4 separate regions of the Homo sapiens genome follow, and all the other regions are linked to region 2. The links come from fine-mapping of genetic effects on gene expression. A gene starts in region 2. Each other region holds a variant in brackets. All regions are shown on one strand. Distances are from middle to middle.

Evidence for each region.
Region 1: its variant is fine-mapped to the expression of SLC39A11 in whole blood (TOPMed, PIP 0.98).
Region 3: its variant is fine-mapped to the expression of SLC39A11 in cerebellar hemisphere (GTEx, PIP above 0.99).
Region 4: its variant is fine-mapped to the expression of SLC39A11 in whole blood (TOPMed, PIP above 0.99).

What each region holds. Positions count from the first base shown.
Region 1 is chr17:72,831,819-72,838,039 of GRCh38, forward strand. The region is part of intron 6 of SLC39A11 (solute carrier family 39 member 11); the gene reads right to left. Among named protein-coding and RNA genes, the nearest start is that of LINC00511, 190 kb to the left of the region's middle. The variant A/G (reference allele first, on the strand shown) is at 3,407.
Region 2 is chr17:73,089,379-73,095,599 of GRCh38, forward strand. SLC39A11 (solute carrier family 39 member 11) reads right to left here and starts at 3,310. Exons shown (of 10, transcript NM_139177.4): 1 at 3,233-3,310. RefSeq lists enhancers at 267-767, 768-1,268 and a silencer at 2,239-2,470.
Region 3 is chr17:73,028,911-73,035,131 of GRCh38, forward strand. It overlaps SLC39A11 (solute carrier family 39 member 11), which reads right to left. Exons shown (of 10, transcript NM_139177.4): 4 at 2,646-2,804. Among named protein-coding and RNA genes, the nearest start is that of SLC39A11, 61 kb to the right of the region's middle. The variant C/A (reference allele first, on the strand shown) is at 3,098.
Region 4 is chr17:73,058,138-73,064,358 of GRCh38, forward strand. All of the region lies in intron 3 of SLC39A11 (solute carrier family 39 member 11), which reads right to left. Among named protein-coding and RNA genes, the nearest start is that of SLC39A11, 31 kb to the right of the region's middle. The variant T/C (reference allele first, on the strand shown) is at 3,251.

The DNA of each region.
Region 1 (6,221 bases), 260 kb before region 2:
TTCCATTTACCATCTCTGTGTTGCTGAAGCTGTGGAAGCAACAGTCTCCATGGCTGAGAGTAGAGCTTAAGTTACGCAGATGGGCTGCAAAGATTAATTGCCATTCTTAAAGACGCCGATAGAACTATGAAAAATAAGTAGTAATAGTAGTAGTAGGAAGAAGAGGAGGAGAAGGAGGTTGGAGAATAGGGGAAGTTACCATGCTCTAGTAAACTGCAAGATGTTGGCATATGACAAACCTTGGTACAAGATATAAGACAAAATGAAATGGGATCGAGCGTATAATCCCTGTGGCTACTAACTACTGCATTAGTAGACAAAGCAACAATTAGGATGAGCCGTGAATGAGGATGTGGTGCTGTCCCTTAGGGCAGGTAATACCCAAAACATGCAGCCATACACTTGTCTATTCTCCAAAGAGCTGAACCACTGAAGAAATGGTGGTCTGAAATGGCTTGGAAGTCTAGGTGTTATTGGGAGCTTGGATTCGTCACGAGCCCCCTAGGGGCTTCACACACATACTGATTTTGCAGACTTCTACCCCCTCGAATATTCTGTGGAGAACAACCTATTTTTTTCTATCCTCTCCCAAACCGCCATGCTGAGCTCATCGCCTCTGAATTTATCTCCGTGTCAAGGAGAAGATGACAGCCAAAAGTAATACATTTTGTTTAAGTCAAGTCATGACACATCTATGCCAAATGGAGAACTCAGCTGGCAATTACCACACTGAAAAGTGGGACAAACAACAGAGCAAGGAATAGACCTAGAAGTACATTTAGGTGTCATTTCACCCACTGTATTTAACCAGAGAAAGAAAAAGAAAATGGAATTTTGATTTCAGAATCCAACCTTGGTTAATGGTTATTTGCAGAAAACTAGAAACATTTTAATTATTTTCAACTCCACACCATAACAGCTATCAAGGGAATGGAGACAAAACAAACAGGGACTTATTAAATACATAATTAATGTGCACTAAAATTCGCATATATGAATATGAGTAAGCTGGGACCATTATAAGGTATGCAACTGAAACGTGATCAATTAATTAAACCTGTTATTTGCTGGGGCTTTGGGAAAAATGGGGCCACCTCAACAGAGGAGGGAGACTCATCAGCAGATGAGATGGCTCCTTGGTGGTCCATCCTGCTTGCAAAGTAGCCAGGTATTTCAAGAAACAAAAATCTTAGAAAAGCTACAATTTTCTTTACAGTGAAGCAAAAATAAATCAAGCCCTTGTCAATCAAGACCTTAATCAAGACCATTGTCAAGCTACAAATAGATTACTTTATTCCCTCTTGCCTGGTCTCCAGTCTCCATTATAATCAAATAAAAATACTTTTCAGGCACTGCATCTGGTTTAGAAATATAGTCTGTGGCCAGGAAACAAAATGAAGAAAACTGGCAACACAGGAATGAAATCACTTGTAGCGATTATTAATAACCGTCCTCTTTTGAAATGGATTAAAGTGCAGTACAACAATAGGTTATAACATGGAAGAAGAATTCAGATATTCAGATATTCAGACCTTAAGAATGCACTTTATCCTTATCACAAAGCAGCAAATGAAGTGCTGTGCTTCCTAGCAGCCAAAGAATAAAAAAAGGTCTACACGATCAATGTCTGTCATTCCCACAGGGAGGCAAAGCTTTTCCAGGCAGTGTATTCTAAAAGTTTTATCTAGAGGCATTGGGGGATGAACAGGACAATGGCTCTAGCAGAAAGCTGACAATAAAGACTCCAGTGATTTTCATCTGACGGTTAACATCCTTTCTTTCAAACCTGAGTTAAGTCACAGGAGGCTGTTCTGTGAGAGGGGCTAAGCTGACATAGACCAATGATGTTGGCTTGGGCTGGGGTGAGGAGAGGTTGTCTACTGGCAGATAACACATAACACCAGAGGACAAGATGATGAGCTACTATTTCAGCCCTTGTGCAGCTCCTTCCATCCCCCGACATCAGACATCATGATGCTCTCGAGCCTGCTACACAAGTCCCGGCACAACTCGCAACCCACTTCAGTCCCCAACTCAGGAAATAAGAAAAAAACTCAGAACCAACAGGAGCAAGAGAATGGTATCACAGGATGACTCTGCAGCATCCTGAATTTATCAGAAACAATGTGAAAAGGCTGACATTTAAATTATTTTATTCACAATATATGTAGGACATACCCCATGACTGAGAACAGCTCTCTTACACTGTCTTCCAGAAATGGAACTCCTCCCAAGGCAAGCTTGGGTAGGCACTACACAACAAACAATTTGTGAAGTTACTTTTTTTTGCTAAGGGTCTAGTGCAGTGTCATCCAGTAGAACTTCCTGTGATCATGGAAGCGTTCTACATCTTGTGTTGTCCAACACAGTAGCCACTAGATACAAGTATTTGATGTGTGGCTAAGTCATGCTAAGGAGCTAAAGTTTGCATTTTATTCCAGTTTAACTCATGTAAATTTAGAGAACTACAGGTGGCCAGGGACTATGGAATTGGACACAGCAAGTCTAAAAGATCTTACTAGGCTGGGCACGGTGGCTCACGCCTATAATCCCAGCACTTTGGGAAGCTGAGGCGGGTGGATCACCTGAGGTCATGAGTTTGAGACCAGCCTGGCCAATATGGTGAAACCCCATCTCTACCTAAAATACAAAAATTACCTGCGCATGGTGACACACGCCTGTAATTCCAGCTATTGAGGAAGCTAAGGCAGGAGAATAGGTTGAACCTGGGAGGCGGAGGTTGCAGTGAGCTGAGATTGCGCCACTGCACTCCAGCCTGGGCCACAGAGTGAGACTCCAACTCCATAAACAAAACAATAAAATAAAATAAAATAAAATAAAATAAAAGATTGTATTAAACCATGTTCTAGCCAATACCTGGCCATGGGAGAAAGACAACTGGAAGTTATTGGAAACTTTGCTTCCTAATACAAAAATGTATTCAAATTCTCTTGCTTTAGTTTTCTCTTTAATTTACATAATAGGTAGGAGGATGGCATAATACAATCGACGTGGAAATGAGTCTTGATTTTAACCCCAATCCTAGCGCAGCATTAGACTTTCACTCTGGCTGTAGCTTCCTTGATCTGAAGGCCAGAAAGTAGGGCTCAGGCATCTGCGCGTCTGTCGCCTGTGCAGGAGATGACAGAATGTCTAAAAGTTTCCCTGCCACTTTTATTTGGGATCACGGAGGATTCCCAGAGTTGTGATTTTGCCCTCTGGGCGTTGGTGCCAACTCTCATGCTCAAATCCAACAGCGTCATTTAGAAGTGTGCTACCGGCTTCTGCCTCAGTGCACACCAGGAACATGATATGTTGAGCAAAATGTCATCCCATGTAGGAGCCTGTGCTAATTATAATGTCAGGCTTCCCACTGAGATACTGATAATTAAAGGAGAATATTACA[A/G]TGTTTTCAAACTCCTGCAGTAAATGAGAAGCATCTTCAAATGTAACCTGTTGGAGATGAAAATTAAAGCCATCTGTGACGTCCCCATTTAAGACCTCCACAACCAGAACCAGACAATTTTTGAGGATCAAAGCAAGTTGAAGGCAAAAGTAGGTGGGTGGTAGAGTTTGGGGGAAGAGGAGGAGGTGGAGGGGAATTAATGTTTTCCAGGTCCTGCTGTGTTCTAGGAACCACAATACTCTTTATTTTTTTATTGAGACAGGTCTTGCTCTGTCACCCAGGCTGGAGTGCAGTGGCACAAGCACGGCTCACTGCAGCCTCTACCTCCTGGGCTCAAGTGATTCTCCTGCCTCAGCCTCCTGAGTAGTTGGGACTATAGGCATGTGCCACCACGCCCAGCTAATTTTTGTATTTTTTGTAGAGACGGGGTTCTGCCACGTTGCCCAGGCTGGTCTTGAACTCCTGAGTTCAAGTGATCTGCATGCCTCGGCCTCCCAACGATACACTCTGAATAGCAGATAACACAGTGGGTGGCCCTGCTTGTTGCTACTGCTGTCGTCTCAATAATGAACTGCCAAGTAGCTATTATCTGCATTTTACAGCTGGGAAAGCTAAGACTCTCATGATCTCACCTAAGGTTACCTACCTAGTAAAGCATTTGGTGGCTCCAGGATCCAAGTCTTGGCCTTTCTGCTCTAAAGGTTGTGCTTGTCCTATGCCTGTGGGCGACCACCTGCTTGGGTCCTGGAGCATCAGTGGTGGTGATAGGTGTGCAGGGGCCTCACAGGCATTCATTTTACACATCTCCTAGAGCACCCACAGTGGTGGGCCCTGTGTACGGTGAGGCTTCCTGCCCAGGTTTCCCTGCCCAAGTCTCCTTGCTGAACTGAGCCCGATGCATCTGGAGTGAGAACTACGCCAACGTGGTGCTGCAGACATTAACATTTAATGTGGCAAGCTTAAGAAAAGCAAGAAGCATTTCCTGAACTTCTCTGTAACTCTCTCTGAAAAACAGTGTGATCCACGGGAAGAAAAGAAACACAGAGCTCACCAGTGAGACACAACACACGGAGACAGAGTGTGAGTTAAGCTGTACCCATCATTGCTTGTGTGGCCTCGGGCTTTTTTTTTTTTGAGACAGGGTCTCGCTCTGTTACCCAGGCTGGAGTGCAGCGGCACGATCTCAGTTTTCTGCAGCCTCCACATCCCAGGCTCAAGCGATTCTCCTGCCTCAGCCTCCCGAGTAGCTGTGACTGCAATCACGCGCCACCATACCCCACTAATTTTTGTATTTTTTGTAGAGATGGGGTTTCCCCACGTTGCCCAGGCTGGTCTTGAACTCCCAGGTTCAAGCGATTCACCTGCTTCGGCCTCCTAAAGTGCTGAAATTACAGGTGTGAGCCACCGTGCCTGGTCTTGGGCTTGATCTTTAAACTTTCTAGGTCTCAGTTTCTAAAATGTAAAACAGGGACGCAAATATCTAAATCATGTATGTGGTGCACTTTATACAGCGTCTGGAACCTTGAAAGGCCCCCGTAAGTGGCAGCCTTTAGCATTATTGGTATATTTTATTATGGTCAATGATGCATGCCTTTGTGTGGTGTTCTGCTTCCTCATTAACTGAGCCTGAGTCGCCGGCTACTGAGAAGGCCCCTCCAGTTTCTGGAAGCAGAGCAATGTGAAGCAGAAGCTGTTGCATCACGGTTTCTCCTGGAAAGGTCTGTACCTAACAGTAGAATTTTCTGCTCAGTCTTTACCCCAGGAAAATGAAAAATCAACATGTTCTTTCTCATGGCTAGTAGCTCCTTTCTTGCAAGTCGGGGCCCTGGTCTCGCACTGCTGCCCCTCCAAAGCCACCCTTTGCAGCACGGGGAGACTGCACAAGGGCAAGCTGAAGGTCCAGGCTCACATCACCAATGTCAGCAGCAGCAGCCTCCCTGGCCACCTGCAGCTGTCCGCAGACTTTTCAGCATTCCAACAGATCCTCCATATTCCACACAAAATCAAAATCCACAGCAACTGCCACCTCGTTGGAAAGCAGGGCTCAAAAAACAACTTTATTTTTCTCCTGTCTATTGACTTGGAGGAAAATTCACTAGATTTTTTAAAAATGTACTATAAAAATGTATATTGCTCAAAAAAAAAAAAAAAAAAAAAAGCAGGACTCATAGACACCCCAAGCAAGTGCCATGGTAGGTGGGACAGAGATTATCCCTTTGTGTCAAAGGACTCTGCTGGATGGAATGAATGGGAAGGAACTTAACAAAAAGAACTGGCTTCAAAGAGTTCAAAGGTTTCCATATGACCCAGCAATTCTACTCCAAGGTATGTACCCAAGAGAACACAGGTCCATACAAAGACATAAACACACATAGCAGCATTACTTACAACACCCAAAAAAGTAAAAACAATCCAAATGTCCATCAAGTGATGAAACAGTAAACAAAACACGGTGTATCCATAGAATAGAGTATTATCTGGCCAGAAAAAGAAAGACTTACTGATACATGCTACAACATCAACGAAACTTGGAAGCATCATGCCAAGTGAAAGAAACCAGACACAAAAACATACATATTACATGATACCGTTTAAATGAAAGTCAGTCCCGGTTAGGGAAACTGTAGAGACAAAGTAGATTAGTGCAGGGGCTGGAGGGAGGGAGGAATGGGGAGTGACTGCTAATAAGCATGCAGTTTCTTTTTTTCCTCAGAGGTACTGCTCAAAGAGTGTGGGGTTTCTTTACAGGGTGATGAGAGTATTCAGGAATAGTGGTAGGTTGGGTACAGTGGCTTACACCTATAATCTCAGCACT
Region 2 (6,221 bases):
GGCACCTTCCACAAGCCCCAGACAATCCTGCCTCCAAGTCCCTGTTCATGCAGTTCCCTCCTGGAATACCTTCCTTGCACATTTCCAGCCATCAGAACCCGGAGCACCCTCTGCAGCCCACATAATGCCAACCTCACGACCAAGGCTTTTCTGGCCTTCCCCAGCCCTGTCCTAGCATGCAGCTTTGGTCCTCTCTCAGTGTGGCTTTGCCTCCATCTTTTACAGCCTTAGTTGCTTGAGGACGGGGACGGTGCTTTTTCACATTTGGCACCCCTGTAAAATAGGGCTTTGTAACCCCTGAAAAATATGTGCTGGATGGAAAAGGGCCAGCTTACCTGCACAGGACAGTCAGCAAGGACAAGCAAAAGGACCCAGGAATGGAATGTCCCCTGGTCAACTCAGCACCCTGCTGCTGAAGCTGAAGTTACACCACCGCCCACCAAGGAAAGGAAGGGAAGTACCACTCCCTCTCATTTCAGTCCAGAGAACCTCCTCCAGACTTTAACATGCTTAAAATTCTGGATCTGAGATGACAATCAGATCTCTCCCTGTGGAAAGTTACAAGGCAGAGAAACCCATTTGTTGAAAAGCCCTGTGTTCTGGTACACAAACACTGGGCTCAGGGCCTCATATCAAAGCCTCATTCATCTCCCTGATGGTCTGCCAGCACCCAGAGGGCTGGCTGGACACAACCACACTGGGCTCAGCCCTGCCAGTTCCCGGTGCTCTGTGAGGAGCCAGCAGCCCTGAGCCTGCAGATCAAGAGCTGAAGACGCTGCCTCGATTGACCCTGGAAGGAAACCATGGCAGAGTGTGGACGCAGCCCTTATGCCAAGCGGCTCAGCAACACACCCAGGCTCAAACCTAGGAAGGGTATAGGTCCAGGTGAGCCCAGGTGAGCCCTGGCTCAGCCCCTGTGCCAGAAACTCTGAGATAAATAGCATCTATGGAATCAGACTCTAGTTCCCGCACTCTAAACGAACTGCACCAACTGTGAAAACTGTGACCACGCCAATTAAAGAAAAAAAAAATCATTTTCAAAAAACTACTACCCTTTACATCCGTCATCTTGCTAAGCCACCCTAAAAAGAGGGGTTGGTCTTTGTTTTTAAACCAAGCCATCTGGACCATTACACCAATCATCTATTCCGAGTTGCTGTGGACAAAATTTCAAACAGCATTTACAAAGAACAGCACAAAGGGATCATCCTCTTAGTACTTATCATCCAAGACAGGGCATAACAAAAACACCTTTCTTTCCTGTATTTGAATGTGCCTCTTGACAGCTACAGAAGAGAGCAAACAATTTACATTTGCCAACAGGCCAAAGTCAATGTGGATCTTGTGGGCTGGTGAACAGAACAGAGGGAGCTCGTGGGTGTTCCTGGTGGTTAGTGGGATAGGGAAACACCCGTCTAAGCCTGTCCCCATGTATATCTGAGCACCCTCCTGAGTAAGAAAAAGGGACACAGAGGGAAGACCGAGGCCACCATCCTTTCCATCCCAACAGGAGCAGCATTGATCACGGGCAATGCAAGCCCAGTGCCCCTCGGAGAAGTTTCTTCTCTATTTGCTGTTTTAAATCCTCGCTACAAGGGTGGTCAGAGAACCAGCAGCACTGGTCCGGCTTGGGAGCTAGTTAGGAATGCAGAAACTCAGGTCTCACCCCAGACTTTCTGAATCAGGGTCTGCATTTTGTGGAATTCCATGGGGGATTCTTATGCACATTAAACTGTGGAAAGCAAAAGATTAAAACTGGTAAAACTTGGCCAGGCGCAGTGGCTCATGCCTGTAATCCCAGCACCTTGGGAGGCCAAGACGGGCAGATCACCTGAGGTCAGGAGTTCGAGACCAGCCTGGCCAACACGGTGAAACCCCATCTCTACTAAAAACACAAAAATTACTTGGGCGTCGTGGTGTGTGCCTGTAGTCCCAGTGCCTGTAGTCCCAGCTACTCGGGAGGCTGAGGCAGGAGTAATCGCTTGAACCCGGGAGGCGGAGGTTGCAGTGAGCCGAGATCGCGCCACTGCACTCCAGTCCGGGTGACAGAGCAAGGCTCTGTCTCAAAAAAAAATAAAAATAAATAAATAAATAAAACTGGTAAAACTTCTACAATACCAAGAGCTTAGAAAATGAGTTCTCCTGCCCCATGTGGGATTGGCAAGAGCAAAGAAGAGTCCCAAAAGAACAGAAAGTTTTCTGCAGAGTCTCAAGAGAAGAAAAAGTTTCTGGCAGAGTCCCAAGAGAACAAGAAGTTTTCTCTAACCGGCAGACCAGTAACAACTTTAGGACACAGCATCTCCATCACAGCTTACACAATGGGGCTCAGAATTCCTCACGATGGGGATATTAATTCCATCAACCCTGATTCGTTAGCAGCAGGGAGAATCATTCTCTGACCGTTCCAACTTTTAACATGCCAACAGCCTGTAGACTTGTACACACCTGCCACAGCAGCACATGGGCATTCCCGGCTGATTGATACAGGTTTGTTTTCTTTATTTCCTTTCTCCCCCTTTTAAACCTGTTGTTCCGCTTCCAAGAGTCAGTTCAAGAGGCTGGTGAAGTTGCAGAAGTGGAAACAGCACTAGGGCTGCTGGGCCTTAGTGGAGCTGCACACACATGCCCTAACTCCACGAGGGGGAATCCAGCAGAAGGATTCAGGTCTGGGCGGAGAGGACTGTGGAAAAGTTCTCTAATGCCTCGCTACTCAAAGCGTGGTCCGCGGACCACCCAACCTGGGAATTAGTTAGAAATGCACACTGTCACGCCCCACCCAGACCTGCTGCAAGTTAACCAGATTCCCAGTCAAGTTCCAGAGGTCCAGCTAACAGCCAGAGCAAGTGGGAGGGGCCTGGGAGCAGCTGGATTTGTAGCTGCCTCTGCTCCCAGGAATCCCGGGTACCCCCACACACCGCCTAGGAAGGGACGAACGAAGAGGATTTGGGTTAGGACTGTAAAAGGAAGGCATGTCATTGCCTTCCAGATCACCCTGGAGAGGGACATAGCCGGGGTCCGGGGACTTCCTTCCCACCGCCCCTCACCCTCCCACCCCGCCCCGACACCTGCCAAAGCCTCCAATTTCTCCTCCAAACCCCTCCTCTCTCCAGGCGTACCCCCTTCCAAGCTCCAGGTGGCTGCCCTTCCAAGTCCCACACTCTTGTCCTGATGGCCTCCGACCCCGGGCCTCGAGCCCAACCAAAGGCACCGAAGGAGAGAAAAGCCAACTCACTAGGGTGCCCTCTCCAGCCCCCACTGCACTTCCATCAGCCCCCGCTGCCACTCTCTCGCCGGCTCCACTCCCGCAGTCACTTCCTGCTTCCCTCCCGCACACGTGGCCCTCCCGCCTCCGGGCCCCGCCCCCTTGGCCGCAACTGGCAACTCCCGCCTGAAGAATAGATTCTCTGGTTCACAGCCGTCTGCAGGCTCAGGAACAGATCTGGGCGGGCAGAACAGAGCCCTGAGGCCAAGAGCCCAGCAGTCTGCGAGTGACTGCAGCCCTAAGGGAAGCTACAAACACCCAAGGAAAGAGCCCTTTGTAACACCCCTGATGTTACTTATGCTTCTACACCTTTGGCAGCCAGGTCCATGCCACTGGGTGCGCAGCAGAGCAGGATGTGCTGTGTGTGTGTTGCGGGAGAGGCTGGGGGCGGGTAATGTGATGGCATCGGCATCATTCTCCAGTCAATGACCCTCAAAAGAATCACTGGAGGGGGTCAAACACAAAATGCCAGCACCCCCAGAGGCTCTGGTTCCGTCATTCTGGGTGGGGCTGACATTTTGGGATTTTTTTGTTTTTGCTTTTGTTTTTTTGAGATGGAGTCTCGCTCTTTCGCCCAGGCTGGAGTGCCGTGGCCCAATCTCGGGTGATTGCAGCCTCTGCCTCCTATGTTCAAGCGATTCTCCTGCTTCAGCCTCCCGAGTAGCTGGGATCACAGGTGCATGCTGCCAAGCCCCGCTAATTTTTGTTTTTTTTTTTTTTTTTTTTTTTTTTTAGTAGGGACGGGGTTTCACCACGTTGCCCAGGCTGGCCTCGAACCCCTGACCTCAAATGATCCACTCGTGTGGGCCTCCCAAAGTGCTGGATTATAGGCATGAGCCACCGCGCCTGGCCTGAGATCTTGTTTTGAGCTAGGAGTTGCTGATGCTGCTGTCCTGGGACCACCCTTTGAAAAGCACTGCCCTAGGTCAAAGGCTTTGATCTGCAGGATTTCTGTGAAAAGACCAGAGGATAGGATTGACTAGATTTAGCCAAAAACAAAACAAAATAAATAAATAGATAGAAACAAGATGCCTGGGCTGGGCGCTGTGGCTCACGCCTATAATCCCAGCACTTTGGGAGGCCGAGGCGGGCAGATCACAACGTCTGGAGATCGAGACCATCCTGGCTAATACGGTGAAACCCCGTCTCTACTAAAAATACAAAAAATTAGCTGGGCGTGGTGGCAGGCGCCTGTAGTCCCAGCTACTCGGGAGTCTGAGGCAGGAGAATGGCGTGAACCCGAGAGGCCGAGCTTGCAGTGAGCCAAGATCACGCCACTGCACTCCAGCCTGGGCAACAGAGCAAAACTCCATCTCAAAAAAAAAAAAAAAAGCCTGATTAAATTTGAATTTCAGAAAAATAACGTCATTTATTACTATAAATATGCCCCGGGCAATGTGTGGGACATACTTATGTTACAGGCATATTTGTTGTTGATCTGAAACTGAAACCCAGCTGAGTGTCCTGTGTTTTATTTGACAACATATCAGAGCGTGACCTGAGCAGAAAAGCTACCCGTGGTCTCGATGGCCATAGCCCAAAGGGTCCAATAACAGGCCTCTTTCTTCCAGTGGAACTAGGTTGTTCACACTGACGGTCGCACCATATACCAAGCACTCCATGGGGAGGAGAAGACAGCCTGGCCACTGGAGGGTGGTCTTTGCCCTTAAAAGACCCCCAACTTGGAAGAGTCAAATCAGCCATTGCAATTCCACATAAGAGAGTATGTACAGGCACACAGAGACACAATACCCATGTGGCACGGCCCATCAACTCATCTTCCAAAATGTCATACCTCTTCCTGCACGCTGCAATAGCCATAAAATGACACAATATCTTAGACTCACTTCAAAATATGATGGAAGAGAAAAGTGGATGGAGTAGAGATTAAACAAAATTGGCCATGAATTAACCATTCTTAGGCTGGGCATGGTGGTTCACACCTGTAATCCCAGCACTTTGGGAGGACAAGGTGGGCAGATTGTTTGAGCCCAAGAGTTTGAGACCGGCCTGGGCAAAAAAGCAAGATCTCGTCGCTACAAAAAGTTTTTAAAAAGTAGCTGGACATGGTGGCAGATGGTAGCTGGGCCTGTAGTCCCAGCTACTAGGGAGGCTGAGTGGGGAGGATCACTTGAGCCCAGGAGTTTGAGGCTGCAGTGAGCCGTAATGGTGCCACTGCACTCCAGTGAAAGACCCTGTCTCTTAAAAATAAAAAATTAACCATTGTTGAACCTGGGGAACGGGCACGTAGAGGTTCATTAAATGTTTCTGTTTCTACTTTTGTGGATGCTTAAATTCTTTTCTTTTTTTTTGAGACGGAGTCTCGCCCTGTCACCCAGGCTGGAGTGCAGTGGTGCAATCTCGGCTCGCTGCACCCTCCACCTCCCAGGTTCAAGTGATTCTCCTGCCTCAGCTGGCCTCCCAATTAGCTGGGACTACAGGTGCGTGCCACCACACCCAGCTAATTTTTTGTATTTTTAGTAGAGACGGGGTTTTGCCATGTTGGCCAGGCTGGTCTCAACCTCCTGAGCTCAAGCAATCCACCTGCCTCAGCCTCCCAAAATGCTAGGATTACAGGAGTGAGACACTGCGCCCAGCCGCTTAAATTCTTTATAATGAAAAATAAACAGAAATGTTTACAACGATCCACAAAGTGCCTCTCCTGCCCAATCCTTTCTCTCCTTTCTCACTGCTGCTGTGAGGATTCAACCTGCCCATCCCTCATCTAGGTCATGGAGTCACCTCCTTCCACTCCACCCTGTCTAGTCTGTTCCATGTAGCACCGCCAAGATCAGCCTGCCTAAAGCACAGCACATCACACTCTCCTGCTCAAAAAGCTCCGATAGCTCCCCAGTGCCTTTGGCATAAAGTTCAAATGCTTCAGCCTGGAATTTGAGTTTTGCTGTGGTATGATTCCAACTAAACGTTCTCAAGTCTGTCTCCCAGGGTTCTCCTCCCT
Region 3 (6,221 bases), 60 kb before region 2:
AGTTCAAGACCAGCCTGGCCAACATGGTGAAACCCCATCTCAACTAAAAATACAAAAATTAGCCAGGCATGGCAGCAGGTGCCTGTAATCCCAGCTACTCAGGAGGCTGAGGCAGGAGAATCACTTGAACCCAGGAGGTGGAGGTTGCGGTGAGCCAAGATCACGCCATTGCACTCCAGCCTGGGTGACAGAGTGAGACGCCGTCACACACACACAAAAAAAAATTACTGCTGCATAGTGCAAATTAGCCAATGACTGTTTACACCGCCCAGAGAAAATCCCTACATTCAGACAGCTGACCAAATACATCTGATACCGCCCCACCACCCCTACTCCCCAGTAACATAGTAAGACCCACAAGGATTGCAGAGTCCTTTCCAAGAGACTATCTTGGAAGCCCAGTTGGGTGCAGGAGAGAAGAGTAGAATGGGATCCAGCAGGAGCCATGCAGAGCCACTGAGCCAGATCTCTGCCTGCTGCTCAGGGATTGAAGCCACTGGTCACCTGTCAGGGCAAGCAGAATACACTCCAACAACAAGTTCACACAAAACCAGGGTGGCCTTGAGATCAGAATATGGCAGCCTGCATTGAGGGCCACTGGACGCCACTACCACACATAGTCGGCAGCAAGGAAGCCACATGTCCAGGGGACGGAGACAGACACGGCCACTCAATCTTTTTTTTTTTTTGAGACAGGGTCTTGCTCTGTTACCTAGGCAGGAGTGCAGTGGCACCATCTCGGCTCACTGCAACCTCCACCTCCCAGGTTCAAGCGATTCTCATGCCTCAGCCTCCTGAGTAGCTGGGATTACAGGTGCGCACCACCACACCCAGCTAATTTTTGTATTTTTAGTAAAGATGGGGTTTCTCCACGTTACCCAGGCTGGTCTCTAACTCCTGGCCTCAAGTGATCTGCCCGCCTCAGACTCCCAAAGTGTTGGAATTACAGGCATGAACCACTGTGCCCAGCCATGTCACTCAATCTTTTAACAACAAAAAATGACACATGGTCTTTAAGACAGTGGTCCCCAACCTTTTTGGCACCAAGGACTGGTTTTGTGGAAGACAGTTTTTCCATGGACAGGGGCCGGGGTAGGGGGTTGGGGATGAAACTGTTCCACCTCAGATCATCAGGCATTAGTTAGATTCTCTTAAGGAGCACGCAGCCTGGATCCCTCACATGCGCAGCTCGCAGCAGGGTTTGTGCTCCATTGAGAATCTAATGCCACGGCTGATCTGACAGGAGGCGGAGCTCAGAAGATAAAGCTCACTTGGCAGCTGGCTGCCCACCTCCTGCTATGTGGCCCAGCTCCTAACAAGCCATTGACCAGTAGCGGTCCTTGGTCTGGGGGGTTGGGGACCTCTGCTTTAAGACAGTATCACAGCCGTCCAACATCACATTCAGCTGTCTGATCCAAAGGACAGTTCTTCTGTAACACAAGGAATCTGTTTTACATTAGCCCAGGACCTAGAGGCATAGTTCCTGGGAATCGTTATAGTTACAGAATCACCCATCATTCCTTCTCTTTCTCCACTTGGGAAGTTAAGGAAAAAAGAAAGCAGGAAGGCAGGGAAGAGAACTTCAACCTACCTACCTCCCGGGGTACATGACCACTGACTCCAGTGAGTCTGACTTAATCCTGTCTCACCGTGATCCAGCAGGAGAAATGGACTTTGACCCATTTCTCTCCAGAGAGTTCTCCCTGCACCACTTCCCTTTCTAGGGGAGCAGGGAACTCTGGCACCAGTTCAGGGGTGCTTCTGCCATCTCTAGAACTTGTCGGGCCCAGTGTCTGGTAAGGCTGTCTCATGCTGTTATGATCTTGGACCCCTTTCCTCTACTGACAGTGGTGCATGCAGATGACAGGGCTTTAGCCAATGGCTTGCGGTTCCCATCGCATGACCTGGCCCCAGCTCTCTTGGCTCGGTGATCACAGCCACATGCCAGGCTGCGGTTTGCACGGTGCTTCCCTGTAAGCACATACATGCTCATTCCCAAATCCAGCTCTCCTGCCATATGTCAGTAAAAAAGCCTGAAATCTCTGGCTTATCCCCAATTCCAGTGCATTTTTACATTTTTAAAATTTTACTGTACAGTCCTTCGGGGGAGTTATCCTCAAATTAAAGGATGGAAAACTAGAGCTCAGGGATATACAATCAGTAAATGGCAGGTGTGAGCTCCAGCCCAGACCCCTGCTGCACAGAGCCCTGCCTCACCCTCCTGTCAGCCCTCATAATGTGATCCATGGTCAAAGGCCTAATGCTACAGATTGTGGGGGTGGGGCGGGAGTATCATCTCCCTGATGATGTCATACTCTCAATAAAACCCAGCACCACAGTGATCGTTCTAGGTCCTCTCATATATATACAGTGCCACCCAGCACATCAGCTGTACTCTATATTTTTAATGAAATGTGACATTCAAAATCCGAACTTACTAAAATGTAAATAAGGGGGTAATTACCAAGACATTACTTTAAGAAAGAAATCACCGATCAGTTCCTCTAATGCCTTGTTCTCTGTTTAAATACCACTGGCTACTTAACAGAGACATTAACAGGTATGTCAGGTTTGATCAGAAATAAATTCATTGCACAGAGCTGGTTGTATCCCGATACGACAGCTAAAAGTAGAGTGGTACTCACCAAGTGAGGCATCAGGAGGTCAGCCAAGTAGACAAAAGCCGCTCCAAGGGTGAAGCCAACAGCCACAGGGAAGAAGGCAAAGGCACCGAAGCCCCCAGAGGACGTGGCCATCTCAACTGCTGGGGCCAGAAGAGACCAATAGGAAGCTGCCAACATGACCTACAAAAACCACAACGAGAGATAAACGTTAAAGCAACTGCAGAAGGCTTTCCAGGCAGGACCTCAGTTGCTCTCTGTGGCCCAGATTGACCCCTACAATTTCACATGAGTTCAGTCTTTCGTCCCAGGTTGGGAGGTACTATCAGAAACCAAAAAGCCATCCCCAGAATTCCCGGAGCTTACTATTGCAAGAACTCAATTTTGGGTAGGATAGAGTTGACCTTGGGAGGATGCAGTCCAGTTCGCCATCATCTAGCCTATAATTCAGTGGTTCTCAACCAGCAATGGTTTTG[C/A]CCTCCACAGGACATTTGGCAATGACTAGAGACATTTTTAGCTGTCACACTGGGAGGAGCGTAGGGGGAGGTTGCTACTGGCATCTAATGAGTGAGGCCAAGCATGCTGGTAAACAACCTACAATGCACAGCACACCCCTGACAACAAAGAATTATCTGGCCCCAAATGTCAATGAGAATGCTGTTGCGAATTCCTATTCTTTTTTTTTTTTTTTCTGAGATGGAGACTTTCTCTGTCACCCAGGCTGGAGTGCAGTGGCACAATCTTGGCTCACTGCAACCTCCACCTCCCGGGTTCAAGTGATTTTCCTGCCTCAGCCTCCTGAGTAGCTGGGATTATGGGTGTGTGCCACCACAGCCAGCTAATTTTTCTGTATTTTTTAGAGATGGGATTTTGCCATATTGGCCAGGCTGGTCTCAAACTCTTGAACTCAGGTGACCCACCCACCTCGGCCTCCCAAAGTGCTGGGATTAAAGGTGTGAGCCACCATGCCCAGCCCAAAAAATCCTATTTTAATTAAATTCTTCCAAGACAAATTGCTCACTACTTCACGAGTTCCACTGTATTGTAACACAGGTCTAATTATTACAAAGTTCTTTCTTATGTTGAGCTGAAATCTGTCTCCTTTCCACTTTTACCTTTTAGCTGTGGTTTTGCTCCCTAGAACACCAAAAACTGTGTCCCTCCTGTGTGATATGTGACAGCCTCTGAAATATCTGAAGATAACCAGCAAGTCAACGTCATATTGGTCTCATCAATTATCTCTAAAAAGGACGAAGGGAACTAATATTTATTGATCACTTGGTATTTCCAAGGGCCAAGATTTACATTTGATATCTTATCTTTTCATCACAACCACCCCAGAGGCAGATGATGTTTTCTATTGCGATTTGTAGATAAAGAAATTGGATCTTGAAATAATAAGGTAATTTGCTCATGGTCCTACAGGCCAGCGGTCCCCAATCCTTTGGGCACCAGGGGCCAGTTTCATGGAAGACCATCTTTCCACGGACCAGGCAGTGGTTTTGGGATGAAACAGTTCCACCTCAGATCATCGGGCATTAGAGTCTCATAAGGAGCTCACAACCTAGATCCGTGGCATGTACAGTTCACAATAGGGTTCACGTTCCTATGAGAATCTAATGTCGCCACTGGTCTGACAGGAGGCGGAGCTCCCGCGGTAATCCTCACTCACTTGTCCGCTGCTCACCTGCTGTGCGGCCTGGTTCCTAACAGGCCATGGATCAGCACTGGTCCATGGCCCGGGGATTGGGGACCTCTGCCATAGGCAGTAAGTAGCAGATCCAGGGAAATGACCAAGCAGGACCATAACCAACTCAATGACGGTAGAAACATGAAGGAGAAGAAAAAAAATTAGGCTAGTCTCAAATCTCAGCAAAGTCAATTCAATAAAAGGTTCTCCAGCAGATGAGCTGGCACAGTGGTGCATGACTATAGTTGCTGGAGATGAGCTGGCGCAGTGGTGCATGACTGTAGTCCTAGCTACTGGGGAGCCTTGAGCCCAGGAGTTCAAGGCCAGCCTGGGCAACATAGCGAGACTCTGCCTCTTAAAAATAAGAAGCTCTCCAGCACTGACCAAACTAAACACTCATCCATGGCTGTTTACTCTTACAGATGCTATGACATCTTTTGGCTAGAGTACACCCACCACCCATCGTAACTATACGGCAGTCATCGCCGACACAGAAAATGTTGAATGGGTTTCTAAAAATTACTTAATTATGCCTTGCCTTAAAAAATCATCTGCATCACCCATCTTCAAAATAACACTCAGAGTGACAGAAGCAGGTATTACAACAGCAACAATAAAGAACAAATCCAAGCATAAATCCATAAATTCCCTTCTTCCAGCTGTCAAACATGCACAGTCACTTGCTCTGGGCCAAATTCTCCCAGCAAAAGTCTTAGTGCCACCCATGGAAACCTGCAAAAGCCTCCAAAACTCTAAGAATGAAAATGCCTCTGCTCAACAGGATGGGAGCTGAGGCTGATCCGTTCAACTCCATGAGCCGGGCTGTCAATAAAGACCATCAAAGGAAATGTGAGGGCTCCCCCTCCCTGCTACAGCCTAATCCACCCCTTTTCCAGACTTTGTCTTACTAGCTTTAGAATTCAACAGCCCTCAGTAGCTGCCCTGCATGGTAAACTCCCCATCGAAGAGGACCTGCAACAAGACACAGAGATGGAAAGGTGCCCGTTCTTCTTTGCATTTTTTGAAACAGAGTCTCTGTCACCCAGGCTGGAGTGCAGTGGTGCAATCTCCGTTCACTGCAACCTCTGCCTCCCAGGTTCAAGCAATTCTCCTGCCTTAGCCTCCCAAGTAGCTGGGATTGCAGGTACTTGCCACCACACCTGGCTAATTTTGTATTTTTAGTAGAGACAGGGTTTTGCCGTGTTGGCCAGGCTGGTCTCGAACTTCTGACCTCAAGTGATCTGCCTACCTTGGCCTCCCAAAGTGCTGGGATTAAAGGCGTGAGCCACTGCTACTGGCCCAATTCTTCTTTTTAAACCTGACCTGTGCAGCAGCTTCTCTGGTTCTCCCATACGGTCCCACCTTCAACAACTCTAAAACCACATGGCCCAAGTAAGCCCACTCATCTCACCCTCTAAATCCTCCCCACCCTGCACTCCGATGAAAAAACATAACATCGCTGTCAGCATCACTTGAGAGACGTCCCCAACCTCTGCTCTCATCTCCTTTTCAACCCCAGGTCCAAACTCTTCTGTCCACATTTCCTTCCATCCCTCTGCATCACTGAGTACCAACCTTTTTTCTGCCCTTACACATGAGAAGCACACAATCCACAAGCTATTCAAGGAGCAGGAGCAGAAGAGAAGTGTCTCTCAAGGGAGGGTGTGTTGGAATTTGGGATGCTTGCAATGCAAACGCATCCCAGCTGATTCAGGTAAGCCCCCTTCTTGAGAATCACTGCCCTTTATCTTTCCAGTCAAATTTAGGATCCAGCTGGATTTCCTTCATTTCTTTTCCTTGTGAGCCTCCCTGCCTCACACACAAACTGGAAAACCACCAAAGAACAATCGGGAAATTGAATAGGGTTGCCTGTCTAAAATGAAAAAAGCACCCAAAGCAAAATTCTTTTT
Region 4 (6,221 bases), 31 kb before region 2:
GTTTCACAGGCCTTGCCTTTCACCATTTTGTCTTCACCAGGCTTGCGTGTTTGTTTGTCTTGGCAAATAATACTATTTTGGCCTGAAATCTGGTTATCAGGCTAGCTGACAATCCCTGGGGGCAATAATGAGTAATCGAAGTGTCCTCTGATTTAACCCCCTTGCTAGAATGAAAACAGTCGGGGGATAAAGAAAATATCCGCAGAGTAAATGCGGAAAAGATAGATAGGTCCTTGGAAGAATGGATGATGGGCCAGCTGGGGTGGCCTTCTGATCTCGTCTCCTGTGATAGGAGTTAATCTTGGCCGGGTGCAGTGGCTGACATATGTAACCCCAGCACTTTTGCAGGCCCAGACGGGCAGATCACCTGAGGTCAGGAGTTTGAGACCAGCCTGGCCAACATGGCGAAACCCCCTCTCTACTAAAAATACAACAATTAGCCAGGCATGGTAGCAGGCACCTGTAATACCAGCTCCTAGGGAGAAAGAGGCAAGAGAATTGCTTGAACCTGGGAGGTGGAGGTTGCAGTGAGTCGAGATCGCACCACTGCACTCCAGCCTGGCTGACAGAGCGAAACTCTGTCTCAAAAAAATAAAAAAGGGTTAATCTTCAGAAGACTGACGCAGTTGAGTTCCTTTTGTAGGATCTGTCTTTTGGCAGATGAAAGAGAACTCAGGAGGCCTTGCCCTGTGTTTTGCCTTCAACTCAAAGTAATTAATATACCAAAAATGTGACTACCAAAGCAACACATTTTGGGGTGGCATTCCCTGAATGCTTTCAATGGCTAGTTTTGTTTAGTGAGCAATTAAATAATAACTGTTAAAAAAAAAAGAATAAATTAGGTGAATATGGACAGCATAAAAGTTTATAAATGAATTTGTCATTGTTTCAAAAATCTTTTGCAGCAATTTGGAATTTTAAAGTAATAGATATTTATAAAATGTCTGAGTCATTTCTTAGTTAAAATACTAGAACATTAACTGCTAAACATAAGTTTCAAGTATAAATACTTTGGCATCTTGGTTTTGTACAATATAGAGAAGCTGAATATATTTGGGTTTGTTCATAAACATGAAAACATTGTTCTAGGAGGAAGCACATATTTCTAGAAATTACAAATGTATATTCATGAAATGTTAGTATATAACAGTTTAAAATTGTTTTACTTCTTATGTTTTCACTAGAAATTGAGGTTAGTAACAGTTTAAAATTCTAATCAATATAAGCTAGTGAAAACTGGAAATAAGCCCAGGCATAGTGGCTCACGCCTGTAATCCCAGCACTTTGGGGAGGCTGAGGCAGGCAGATCACCTGAGGTCAGGAGTTCGAGACCAGCCTGACCAACACGGTGAACCCCTGTCTCCACAAAAAATACAAAAATTAGCCGGGCATGGGGGCGGCTGCCACCTCAGGAGGCTGAGACAGGAGAATCACTTGAACCTGGGAAGCTGAGGTTACAGTAAGCCGAGATCGCGCCATTGCACTCCAGCCTGGGCGACAAGACTGAAACTGTCTCCAAAAAAAAAAAAAAACTGGAAATAATATGGGAAACAACTCCATATGCAAGGAAAAAAAAGATATGTTTTTGTTAAGTGAAGCTATGAGGTATGAAATATGTGTCTTTGTTAAGGAAAAAAAGAGTAATTTTCACCCTAACGTAGAATGACAGGTTGCCCCAAAATGAGAAAGAGGGAAGGTATAGATAGGATAAATAAAAAACTGATGGAATATAAGAAGGTTGTAGGAGGTTTGTGGACGGTGAATCATGTGAAAGAAATTTTATTGTGATCAGCAGGGCGTGGTGACTCACCCCTGTAATCCCAGCACTTTGGGAGGCTGAGGCAGGTGGATCACCTGAGGTCAGGAGTTCAAGACCAGCCTGGCCAACATGGTGAAACCTGTCTGTACTAAAAATACAAAAATCGGCCAAGCATGGTGGTGGGTGCCTGTAATCCCAGCTACCTGGGAGGCTAAGGCAGGAGAATTCGCCTGAAGCCGGGAGGCAGAAGTTGCAGTGAGCCGAGATCACGCCACTGCACTCCAGCCTGGGCAACAAGAATGAAACTCCATCTCAAAAAAAAAAAAAAAAAAAAGAAAGAAAAAAGAAAAAAAAAGAAAACAAGGTAAAAAAAAAAAAGTTGGGGGGTTTCTTTACCTTTTAGGAAACTGGCAAAGGAAATGAAGACTGCGTTCTACCAAAATAACTTTTTGTCCTTCACGTTGTCTTTATCAGGTTTTTGATAACTATAGAAAACTATTAAAGAGCTAAGGTTTTTCCTCCAAATATGTTGCTTTTTATATTCACCTTTGAAGTCTTTATCACTCTGGTTAAATTAATGACTATTATTTCATAGTTACTTGTGATCCCATTTTGATGAAATGTTTTAAACCTTGGTGATATTTAAACCAAAATCAAACTCTAAATTTAGTCTTTCTGACCAAGAATTAACTTTGGGATTCTCTTGCTGGGCCCTGAGAAAGCCTCAAAGGATACATCTCTCACCTTGTAAAGGGGAGATATTATACGAATTAGGCTTATTTAGTATACTAAATTATATGGGAAGTACTGTCAAATAATAAGTAATGCTGAACCTTCTTTGAATTTTACTCATATGTGTTCTAGAAAATTGTTTACAATTTTTAGAAATTTGATACGTGATCAGCCATAATTTCAGTTATTATGTTAAATGGTTGTATTCCACAGAAACAACTAAATTTCCTTGTCAATTGTGTCATTATTGAATGAAATTTCAACAGCTCTTTAACCATGGACATTTTAAGTCCTGTCACTCACAGACGGTTGTTTGCTCGGTACTTTCCTAAGCAACTATAAGCCTATATAGTTTTGTCTTCAAGGAGGCTCACGGAAAAGATTCTGACAAGTACAGGTTTGTGATTACTTTAAGATCGTATCATTAAACTGGGTAAGAATTCTCAGAACTCACCGAGCGTGGTGGCTCATGCCTGTAATCCCAGCACTTTGGGAGGCCAAGGCAGGCAGATCCCAAGGTCAGGAGTTCGAGACCAACCTGGCCAACATGGTGAAACCCCGTCTCTACTGAAAATACAAAAATTAGCCGGGAGTGGTAGCAGGTACCTGTAGTCCCAGCTACTCAGGAGACTGAGGCCAGAGAACCGTTTCAACCCAGAAGGCAGAGGTTGCAGTGAGCTGAGATTGCACCACTGCACTCCAGCTTGGGCAACAGGGCAAGACTCTGTCTCAAGGAAAAAAAAATTCTCAGAACTCGTA[T/C]GAAGAAACTCACTGGTTCATAAAACTGTTAACCCACCATCAAAAGAACAAGAATTACTTAAATGCTAAGTCAGATTTTCATGCTAAGTCAGTTGATTGTGAAATTGTTAAGATATAGAAGCTGAATGAACTCCCTAAGATTTATCCAAGTCAAATCACCTATGATGACCTATTCATTGGACAGGGTTATGCATCTTAATTGGAGAAATAAAACTTGTACTTGAAAGGATGTAAATTCAACATTAAGCGTAGACTCATAGAGGGCTTAGACAACTACTTGGTCTTTTCTGAGTCCTTAAAGCTTCCATTATTAAAAGTTCTGTGCAGGCTGGGCAAGTGGCTCATGCCTACAATCTCAGCACTTTGGGAGGCCAAGGCGAGTGAATTGCTTCTGCTCAGGAGTTCAAGACTAGCCTAGGCAACATGGTGAAACCCCATCTCTACAAAAAAACACGAAAATTAGCCGGGTGTAGTGGCCCAAGCCTGTGGTCCCAGCTACTCAGGGGGCTAAGGTGGGAGGATCACTTGAGACCAAGAGGTCAATGCTGCAGTGACCTCGTGTGATCACGTCACTGCACTCCAGCCTGGGTGACAGACTGAAACCCTGCCTCAAAACAAAACAAAAAAAATCCTCTGTTCCATGACTCTTCATACCACAGACAAAATGAAACAAATTATGGAAAAATAATGGTGTGGCGACTGTTCTAGAATTACTAGGATGGTTTGTAACCAGTGAGTGCTTAGTTTGTCAAACTCATAATCCTGGAAAGACAATCAAAACTTCAGATGAGGCCGGGCGCAGTAGTTCATACCTGTAATCCCAGCACTTTGGGAGGCTTAGGCAGGCAGATCACATGAGCTCACAAGTTCGAGACCACCCTGGGCAACATAGCAAAACCCCATCTCTATAAAAAAAAATACAAAAATTGGGTGTAGTGATGCATGCCTGTAGTCCCAGCTACTTGGGAGGCAGAGGTAGGAGGATGGCTTCCACTTGGGAGGCAGAGGAGGTTACAGTGAGCTAAGATTGCACCACTGCACTCTAGCCTGGGTGATAGTGCCAGAGCTTGTCTCAAAAAAAAAAAAAAAAACTTTAGGTGATACACTTCTGCTACCTGATAGGCCATTTGAACATCTACAGAGGGATTTCATTAAATTGCCACCTTCAATAGGATATCAGTATGTCTTGCAACAGTTTGCATGTTTCCTGGTTGGATAGAAACTTTCCATGTAGAAAAGCTAATGCTATGACAGTAGCAAGGAAGTTATTACAAAATTTATTTCCTTTATGGCAGTGGTCTCCAACCTTTTTGGCACCAGGGACTGGTTTCGTGGAAGACAGTTTTTCCACGGATTGGGGGTGGGGGATGGTTTTGGGATGACACTGTTCCACCTCAAATCATCAGGCGTTAGAGTCTCATAAGGAGACCGTAACCTAGATCCCTTGCACGTGCAGTTCACCATAGGAGTTGTGCTCCTGTGAGAATCTAATTCTGCTGCTGATCTGACAGGAGGAGTTCAGGAGGTAATGAGAGCAATGGAGAGTGGCTGCAAATACAGATGAAGCTTTGCTCACTCACCCGCCACTCACCTCCTGCTGTGTGGCCCAGTTCCTAACAGGCCACAGACCAGTAAGTCTTGGGGGCCTGCTGGGGGTTGGGGGCCCCTGCTTGAGGAGACATCCCTGTCAAAATCTCTAGTGACACAGGAATCCATTTGGACAAATTATAAAAGAGTTAAAATGTTAGAAGCACAAGGTACTAGCATTGTCTCTATCACCCTCAGTCTTTTGGAAAGATAAAAATGACAAAAGGCATTTTTAAAAATGAATTTGACGAAGGTAACTGAATCAATTGGATTGACTTGGCCAAAGGTACTACCGTTAGCACTAATGGCAATCAGATCCATTCTCACTGGGATATACAGATTGACCCCTTATGAAATAATTACTGGAAGGCCTACGCTGCTAATAGAACCTCATGTATCTTTCACTCTTATAAACTCTAATATAATTAAATGCTGCAAGACTTTAACGAATTGTGTCAAAATGTATTTTCAGAGGGTAAAAGAAGCTTTTCAAGGCCAGGTGCAGTGGCGCGTGCCTGTAATCCCAGCTACTCTAAAGGCTGAGGCAGGAGAATCACTTGAACCCGGGAGGCAGAGGTTGCAATGAGCCGAGATCGTGTCACTGCACTCCAGCCTGGGTAACAGAGCAAGGCTCATCTCAAAAAAAAAATTAAAATTAAAATTAAAAATAAAACCTATGGCCACAAGATTATTGCAAGGGTCAGATGAGGTAACGGATGAGAAAGTGCTTCAAAAAGTATAAAGCAATAAACCAATGTCACATAATAATATTTGGGGCTCCTGAGCCCATAAGATGCAAGTGTTCGCTGCCATCAGCCCATGGATACTCTCCCCCACACAGAAATCTTCATGCATAATTACAAAGTGTTCAGCAAATTCACGTCTGTAATCTGTTTAAAGTTTATGCACAGGCAATGACCGTGTGTCCCTTCCTCCATCTTAAATACAATACTAATCTGGTTTCCCCTTGTTTATGCATTTAACAGGTATCTAATTTTTCCACACTCCTGGAGAACTAACTCATTTAGCTCCAGGGCTGTCTTGGTTGATTTCTCTACAAGAAGACCAGCGCCTCAGAAATTGACAGAGGTTTCCAAAGAAATGCTACAGCAAAAAAAAAAGGAAATAAAAAAAAGAAAGAAAACCTACGCACTGGTCGGTGTGAAGCCTCCCCTTCATCTGTGTGTCAGACACACAATTCTCACCATCGGGCCTGATGGTTCCATTTGGTTTGCTGTTCAGTGAGTCTGCAGAAACCAAGCACTGTGGCTCATGGCCCTGAGCCAAAGTCAGATGTGGGATTAGAAGCCAGGGCACAGTGGCAGCAAAGATCAGCTTCCACCAACAAGCTATTAAAAAAGTTTCTCTCCCTGGTATTTTGTTC